2 separate regions of the Homo sapiens genome follow, and region 2 is linked to region 1. The links come from fine-mapping of genetic effects on gene expression. A gene starts in region 1. The other region holds a variant in brackets. All regions are shown on one strand. Distances are between the middles of the regions. Region 1 holds the start of IRX4-AS1 (IRX4 antisense RNA 1). Region 2 overlaps LOC124901165 (keratin-associated protein 5-5-like).

What was found. PIP is the estimated chance that this variant, and not a neighbour inherited with it, causes the effect. A credible set is the group of variants that fine-mapping cannot tell apart.
Region 2: its variant is the best candidate, but not a certain one, in a credible set for the expression of IRX4-AS1 in esophagus mucosa (GTEx, PIP 0.58).

The regions. Positions count from the first base shown.
Region 1 is chr5:1,881,628-1,886,007 of GRCh38, reverse strand. IRX4-AS1 (IRX4 antisense RNA 1) reads right to left here and starts at 2,675. Exons shown (of 2, transcript NR_183257.1): 1 at 2,462-2,675; 2 at 1,359-1,528. IRX4 (iroquois homeobox 4) reads left to right here and starts at 3,083. Exons shown (of 5, transcript NM_016358.3): 1 at 3,083-3,405; 2 at 3,949-4,200. The coding sequence starts at 3,361. RefSeq lists enhancers at 284-817, 1,367-2,219.
Region 2 is chr5:1,947,005-1,951,384 of GRCh38, reverse strand. The region is part of intron 3 of LOC124901165 (keratin-associated protein 5-5-like); the gene reads right to left. The region is part of intron 2 of LOC105374618 (a long non-coding RNA gene); the gene reads right to left. Among named protein-coding and RNA genes, the nearest start is that of CTD-2194D22.4, 62 kb to the right of the region's middle. RefSeq lists enhancers at 1-1,167, 2,151-2,652. The variant G/A (reference allele first, on the strand shown) is at 2,159.

The sequences.
Region 1 (4,380 bases):
CTCATCTCCCCGAAGCTGAGCCGGTGCTGTGTACTCCGGGAGCCGGCTGACTTCTGGCCCACCTGCTCACGGGTGTATTTAGTACCGGGGGTCCCTAGAGGGAGGAAGGCTCAGCACTCCGAGTCTATGCAGACGCGTTCAGCTGATACCTGAGATGCTGAGCGTCCTATCGTTGGTGAAAGGGACACTGGGTGCCTCCGCTCCAGGCTTGGCCTTTTGGTGAAGGCACTTGGAAAATATTCCAGTATTATCTATGGGAGAAGGGTGGCCCAGTGAGAATCCCCGGTTTGGGCAGGCGGGCCTAGGCCAGGCTACAGGGTTTCAGTGAGATGTCCCGGTGGTCGCCAATCCACAGGCTGGATTGACCCTGTGTCCTGGAATGAGTAGTGGGGCCTGGGTGAGGCCGGGCGGGTCAGGAGGCCTCCTGGGCAGTTGCGAGCTTCCCGAGGCAGGGTGACTGTGACTGGGCCCGGACCCCAGGCGCTGGGGCCTGCTGGCGGGCAGGAAGTGGAGCGTGTGTGTGCGGCGGCCTGGGAAAGCCGATTCAGAGGCCAGGTTTCTGGGTCACGGAGAAAGGGTCGCCCGCTGGTGGGGACTGGAGCGTCGATTTATGCACACAGGCTGGAAAGGCAAAAGAGAACAGGAGAAGGTGGCGGTGGTGGTCAAAGGAAGCCCCCGAAAGGGCCCCCACGTACTGGCTGCCCTGGGAAGTGGAGGCTGCTTCTCCCAGACTCTGCTCAGAAGATGAATGGCCGCCTGTTCTGGGGCTTCGGCTCCAGTTAAGCCCCGCCGGGTCTGGAAGGAAGGAAATGCACCAGCCTCAGGTCTGGGTGGGCTGAGCTGTTGCACTAGAGCCCAGAGGTGCAGGGCATAGGTGGCTGGGCCCCTGGGCCCTGGCTCTCCCCCTCAGCCGGCGGAGTGCTCACAGTCGCCGAGGCCAGGTCCCCGAGTATAGGTGAGGAAAGGACAAGCCACAGCTGAATGCCTCCCCTCTGGGGGTCTCTACTCCCCATCCCAGCCCTTGGCCCGGCTGGGCTCACACCCCTCCTTCAGCCGGGCCTCATTACCTGGAGAGAGCGAGTAGTTTGTAAACAATAAATAATGGGAAGTAGAAGGATGCTCGGGAAAAACCAGAAAACTGCAAGGAGTGGGGAGGAGGGAGGGTGGGAGAGGGGAGGAAGGAGGGTGGGGGAGGGGAGGAGCAGGAGGAGAGGGAAAGGGGTTGAGAGATTCATTTCTAGCGAGAAACCCCGGTGGCTAGTTTCTTATTATTTACAGGAAGGTGATATTAGCGATTCAGGTGAGAAAGAAAGAAACGCGGCCTGCCGCGAAATCAATACAGAATTCAGAAACAATTATTAATGTCATTTGACTCGTGTTCTTTATATATTTCTCGCGGCTACCGACGCTAAACTGTCTGAATAATTTGCATGGAGCGGCTATTCATTATTTCCGATGGTTTCCCTCTGCAAGCAGCTCGGACGTGGCCCGCTCCGGTCCAACGCGATCGGAGAACTCGTATTTTCATCTGTAAATTAAAGCAATTACGCAGCAGATATTATATGATGTGTACTGTGGTCTCCAGATAGTCATCAATCACCTTCAACCGAGCTGTCAAAAGAGCAGGCAGATTTCGTTTCTGGGAGGCAGGCTTGCAGCTGGGGAGAGGGCGAGGACGTCATCATTAATTAGAGGGTGACCCTGGGGCGATTCACAGGTCTGAACCCAGGAATCTTTCTGAGCAAGTCTGCACAACGCTGCCTTGCACGGCTTCCTTCCCAACTTACCACGGGAGGCCGGCCCAGGGGGCGAGGGCAACCGGGGCGAGTCCCGGTCCCGGAGGGCGATGGCGCAGAAGGCGGGGAACGGGTTCGGGATGGCCCGGGCGCCCCCTTGCCGCCCCCTTGCCGCCTGCTCACTGGCCTCCGCTTTGAACTTGGGCAAGGTCCCAGGGAGGGTACTGGCCGAGGGAGTCCTGGGGTGGGCGCTCGGTCCCCTCTTCCGATTGCTCCGTGCGCCCCAGACAGAAAGCTGGGCAAAATGGACAGGGGAGGGCGCCTCCGCCAGGCACCCAACGCCCCCTCCCTCGCAGCCAGCCCTGCGGGGCGCCGGGAGGGACGAGCTTAGCGGGAGGGGCCGGGGCCTGGGTTGAGGAACCTGCTCTTCCGAGCGCGCAGGGCCGCCCGGCAGTCCCCGGCTTAGCCGCGAGGGGCAGGGGGAAGCCGGCGGAGCACGGCCGGCGGAAAGGGGATCGGGGAGGAAAGTCGGGGAGGCGAGGTGGGGGCGGTGGGCTGAGCGGGAACTTAAAAGACCGCGGTGGAGAAGATGGGGCGTTCTCCGCGACACTCGGCTGCCCAGAGGTGCAAAGCCGGTGGGCGCACGCCCGGGGCGGCCCTACAGCCCTCGGGCCGCCAGTCTCAGGGTGTCGGGCTCCAACTAAGGCCCCGAAGCCCCCACGCACCTGAGGGCATTTTGACCAGCTCTTGCGGGCTGTCTTGCGGCCGCAGTGGGTTCTGAAAGTCCATTCCGGCGTAGGGTGGAAACCGGCGGGAGGCGTTGCTGATTCTCGATTAAACAATAGTGACGAGACGCGTGCGGGGCGCCTGCGAGCCCCTTCCTGCCACTCGGAGCAGAGCGCGCCAGCGCGAGGCCGGGCCGGCCGCCTGCGCAGCGCCGGGCTAATTTTAACTGTTGATTACATCTTCAGCGTGTCCTTTCATAGGTCTCATTTGTAATTGAGACGAATGATTACAGTGGGGCGGGAAGGAGCAGCTGCTCATTAATTAATTTCTAATTAAAAGTGCCTCTCGTTCTCGGGTGACTAAAGAGAAACACCGTTCGCTGGGCGATATTGACTCGGATGGAATTTATTTGCTAACGCCCGGAGGAATGGCCCCTCCGTCCACCGCGCGGCCGGGACTGTCCTGGCCCCTCCCGGCCTGAGCCGCCGGCGAGTGACCGGCGAGTCTGCGGCCAGGCCGGGCTGCGCGAGGTGGGGCTGACGTCAGAGCCTCCTCCGCTTCAAGCCGCGCACATCTGACTTGACGGGTTCGCGCGACTCGTTTTTTTTTTTTTCTTTTTCGTAAAATATGTATTTCTGTCGCCGCTGCGAGGCCGCTCGGTCCCAGAGCCCCCTCGAGCCTCCGGAATGCGAAGTTAAAGGAATCGCGGCGGCCACCGCTGCTCACTTTGTTACCCGGTTAGAAAAGTTTGCGGAGCGCGGGGATGGACTAACCGGCTCTCCTGCTTCGCCCTCCCAGCGCCTAGAAGCCTGCAGCTCCGGAGCAGTGGCCGCGCCACGCCGGCCCCAGCGCGCAGAACCCTGCAGGCCCCGCCCGTCCGCCCCGGGCCGCGCCCGCCATGTCCTACCCGCAGTTTGGATACCCCTACTCCTCGGCTCCCCAGGTAAGCGGAGCCCCGCCCCGCCCAGGCCACCGCAGGTGCCGGTAGGGCGGATGGGGCGGGGACGGGGGGTGGGGAGTGTCCGACCTACGACTGCCTGCGGCTTCCGAGCTAGCAAGGCCTGGGTCGCGCGCCCCTCACGCCCAACCCCTGCTCCCCAAACCCCCGGGGAAAGGCCGAGGCGCTAAGAAAATCCGACGGGCCGGGCCCGGGTTCCCTGATGTTTGAACCACAAGGCTCAGGCTGTGCCCCAGGGGAGTCCTAGGACCCCAAGGAACCCCTGGGGAAGGAGGCTTGGCGCGCAAATGGCGTCAGAGGCCTTGGAAACCCTCCGGGGAAGGGTGTAGGTGCTCGGCTGGGCCCCACGTGGCGGAGGAGGCCAGACGCGCACAAGCTAGTGGAAAGGGGCGAGCATCCTGGTGTGGACGGCGGGAGGCCCGGGGGTACTCGGGGCACGCCCTCGTGGGCGGCGCGCGGGATTGGCAAGGCCCAGGGCCCCAGCCTCCAGCCCGGCTTCCCGCCAGTCCTCGCGGCCTCTCTCTGCAGTTCTTGATGGCCACCAACTCCCTGAGCACGTGCTGCGAGTCCGGAGGCCGCACGCTGGCGGACTCCGGGCCCGCCGCCTCGGCCCAGGCGCCGGTCTACTGCCCGGTCTACGAGAGCCGGCTGCTGGCCACCGCGCGCCACGAGCTCAACTCGGCCGCGGCGCTGGGCGTCTATGGGGGTCCCTATGGCGGATCGCAGGGCTATGGCAACTACGTGACCTACGGCTCGGAGGCGTCCGCCTTCTACTCGCTGGTAAGTGGGGCATCCCTAGCCCTTGCCCTGCCCCTGGCCCTCGATTTGCCAAGCCCACTTTTGCCCCAGTAGGCGCGCCAGTCCGGGTCCCCGGACTGTCACAGAGGGGAGGCGCTCACCTTGGCTGCCTTCAACTTTGCGCCTCCCAGCCGAGACCCTCAGAACCCCACCCCCACCCCC
Region 2 (4,380 bases), 65 kb before region 1:
AGACGGCACACGCACAGCAAACGACACACGCACAGCAGACGACTCACGCACAGCAGACGGCACACGCACAGCAGACGACTCACGCACAGCAGACGGCGCACGCACAGCAGACGGCGCACGCACAGCAGACGGCGCACGCACAGCAGACGGCGCACGCACAGCAGACGACTCACGCACAGCAGACGACGCACGCACAGCAGACGACTCGCACAGCAGGCGACGCACGCACAGCAGACGGCGCACGCACAGCAGACGGCGCACGCACAGCAGACAACGCACGCACAGCAGATGATGAACACACCCACAGTAGAGGGCACACGCACGCACAGCAGATGACACACGCACAGATGACACACGCACAGCAGATGACTCACGCACAGCAGATGACACACGCACAGATGACACACGCACAGCAGACGATGACGCAGGCACAGCAGACGGCACAAGCACACAGAGCAGATGACTCACGCGCCCACAGCAGACGACACACGCATGCACAACAGATGACACATACACAGCAGATGACGCAGGCATGCACAGCAGATGACACACGCACAGCAGATGATGCACACACAGCGGACGACTCGCGCTCAGCACTGGGTGTGAGGGTAGAGACTACGCCATCCATCTTTGCCTCTCCCAAGCATATTCAATGCGCAACCATAACCACCTCTCTCGTGAGAGCGGCGGGCACTTGGTGAGGTCGTGAAGCTGCCGAGGGGCTGTTTCAGAGCGCATGGTGACTCTGCATGTCCCCGGGCAGGAGGCCAGGGCGGGTGCGTGGTGCGGACCCAGACGGGAAGAAGGAGCTGCCCTTTGCGAGCCGCCTGGCAGGGGTGGGGAGAGCGGCCGCAGCGGTTCCAGGACAGAGGCGTCTCCCAGTGGTTGTGGGATGTTTTGTGCCGCTTCACACAAAACAGCACAGGATGCCCTCGGGCCCAGAAGTCGTGGCATGGGCTGGGAGCAGAACCTAAAATGCCCTCATCTCCCTTGGTGTCCTGGAGACTTGGGATGTGGTGAGGGAGAAGCTTCATCATCCTCACGCTCATGGGAGTGTCCCGGGAGCCCCCTGGGGGCTGGTCAGCAGCTGCTAGCTGCACTCTCAGGACCAGCTGGGCTGGCCGGTCCCTCTTCCCTCCACACCGAGAGGCCCTGGTGGCCGATCAGCTCCCCGGGACTCTGTGAACTTGGAGCTGTCCTGCACGTTTTCTGCACCCCTGGAGCCCCGCTGAGGACCTGGCACTTGACGGAACCCCCAACAAACGATGGAGCGAGCGTGTGGTTCCGTGAGCATGGAGAGGGCAGGTGTGAACCACGTGGGGACACTTCCCAACCCGCTCATAACCCCTAGCACCCTAAAGATTTGTGAGTTAAGTTTCTAGTGTGTGAACAAACCCAAGTCACTGCCTGAAAAAAAGCTGACAAAGACCAGATTGTGATTATTGGATCGAAAAGGCCATAAGAGTGTACTTGGATGCTAACGCAGAGGAACAGAAAGTCATTCCCTCCCACAGGAAGTCTGCAAGGACCACACTGTGTTGAAAACTTTAACTCCAATTCTCCCCAAACATTTTTCAAAGGGCACACAATATAAAATCAATTTAAGAAATCATTCAATTCAGCCACAGCTCTTTTCCCGGCATTATGTTACATATGCTAACAGGTCAGCTTAAGTAGCATTTCTTACATGTTGTCCACTAGAGACACAAAGATGAACAGGACCAGGACTTGGGGCTTCCCTGAAGACCCTGGGACCCCAACCAGGGAGAGCTGCCCGAAGCCCGCCGGAGGCCGTCTGCAGGGGTCTTTCCTCACACACTCCACTGTGCCCCTGGAAAGCACCGACAGCCAGCGTCATGGAGTGGGTGCCCTGGGCATGGCAAGATCACAGACAGCACTGCCCTGGGCGGGCACCCCCATCCCAGGGTGTAGGTTCGCATCGCCCCACCCCGCAGACAGGGTACTGAGGCCCACGGTCGCCAGCTAGCCGGGGCCAGAAACTACGCTACGGTCCAGCCGGTCTGAGCCCCCGCAGGGATGCTGCAGCCCTCAGGGCAGTTCTTCAGAACTCATGATGCTGACAGCCCTAGCCGGGGTGGGACACCCAGGAGCACCCAGCTCACCTGTGACTTTCAGAACTTCCAAGGCACCACACTGG[G/A]CACAGGACCAGGGCCTTAGGACTCAGCCTGGAAACACAGAAGGAAGGACCACAGACAAACCCGGAAAGGGCCCAAGAGAATTGGCTGCATGTCATTCAGGACTTGGCTGTGCCGGAGCTCCGTGTCCACAGCTGAGCAGGCGGCCGGGAGGGCCCTGCACGGATTCAGTGTGGGCATGCAGGGTGGCAGACACTCGGCACAACTTGTCACCTGATGCGAAACACTCGCCAGGGCTAAGCCAGTCCCGTGTGACTCCCGAGAAGGCAGCACTCCGTCCCTGGCGCACGGAGCAGGCGCTGGCTGAGAGCCCGACACGGGCCCGGAATTCATCAGTCACGTGTTCCGAGGATTCACCTAAACTTGCCTGTGAATCCCCAGCTTTGCAGTGCACGGTGCCTCAGAGTAAACACACCCGAAACTTCAAGGGATGTGCACCCGGTATTTTGTTTTTTGGACCAGTTGACGTGGTAACACCTGCCCTGTTAGAGTCATCCATGACAAGTCTGAACGCTGCAGGGTGTTGCAATAATTTCTGAAAGAATGGAAAACACTCCGTGTTAGGATAATCTGACCCCGATTAATCCTGACAGAGGCTAAACTCTTGAGGCAAAAGCTGAGGATGAGAAATGAATACACATCTTTAAACACAACCCAACACGGAGGTCTCATGGCTATGCCCACGCTCTCCTAAGCACCTTACGGAAAATAAAATTCTGGGCTGATTTTTACATTAAATGAATGAAAATCTTAAAATGACCTGTGATAATATAACTAAATCTAACAGCACGCTGTTTCTTCTGGGGGTTAGTAGACTGAAATGTCTGTAACCTACTGAGGAAAAGCAGACAGAGTTCTGAGGAAGCACCCAGCCTCCCGGAACACAAATCCCGCTCAAAACAGGAAACCCAGCAGAACGGCCCTCCTTGATTGCTGCAGGCCCTCGGGAAAAAACCTCCTGTTGTAAGTGTGTTCTGAAGTGTTGCAGTGACAAAAGGTTTTCCCCAAGGGCGTTTTAGGTTAAAATAGATGAGACCACGGGAGAAACATTTAGGATCCTAATTAAAGAGACTGTAGAGGCCAGGCGCGGTGGCTCACGCCTGTAATCCCAGCACTTTGGCAGGCCGAGGCGGGCAGATCACAAGGTCAGGAGATCGAGACCATCCTGGCTAACATGGTGAAACCCCATCTCTATTAAAAACCTACCAAAAAAAAAAAATTAGCAGGGCATGGTGGCAGCTGCCTATAGTCCCAGCTACTCAGGAGCCTGAGGCAGGAGAATGGTGTGAACCTGGGAGGCAGAGCTTGCAGTGAGCCAAGATCACACCACTGCACTCCAGCCTGGGAGACAGAGCGAGACTCTGTCTCAAAAGAAAAAAAAAAAAAAAGAGAGACTGTAGAGGGCTGCAAATTACAGTCACTAATGATCCAGGTCAGGCTTTACCCCAAAAAATACCATCGCAAAGGAAGGAAACTGCTTTAAAGTAAGCACATTTTGTAGCTGGGCATGGTGGTTCACACCTGTGGTCCCAACTACTTGGGAGTCTGAGGCAGGAAGACCACTTCAGCCCAGGAGGTCAAGGCTGCAGTGAGCTGAGATTGCACCACTGCACTCCAGCCTGGGTGACAGAGAAAGATCCTGTCTCAAAAAAGAAAATAAAAAAAATAAGGGTATTCTGGAACTTCACATTTCTCAGAAAAAGAAAACTTGTATGATAAAAGTTTGTTCTGTGAACATGTATATCTTGGACAATCATTGCTGCTGCATGTGAGGGAACAGTCATGGTGATCATTGCTCTCAATGGGCTGCAAGGAAGAACAGAGTCTACATAAGGCAAAGAAAAAAAAATCCTACTAAATTATTATTAGCTGGGTATGTACAATCCCTTTAAGGAAATATAGATGTGAACGCCTTTCACTCTGTGATCTTGATGACTGGCCAATGTTTAGAAAGAAATCAAGCCCACTCCCAAGGTGGTTGGTGGCAAATTGTCTTGGGGAAAGGGGACCATACACCCTTCAGGGGAGGGAGGTGAGGCTGATTAAGAAATCTCTAATTCCTTGCTGCAGTTCTTGTTTGGACAATTGAGTGTGCCCAGGAGCCACCGGGGGTCTGCCAGAGCCCCTGGGAGGAGGCAGTGTCGGGGAGGAAGAAGGAAGGTGGGGGAGATGAGGGCCGGTCCACTTGAACACGGAGCGGCTGGAATAGTGATGACAGACGAGA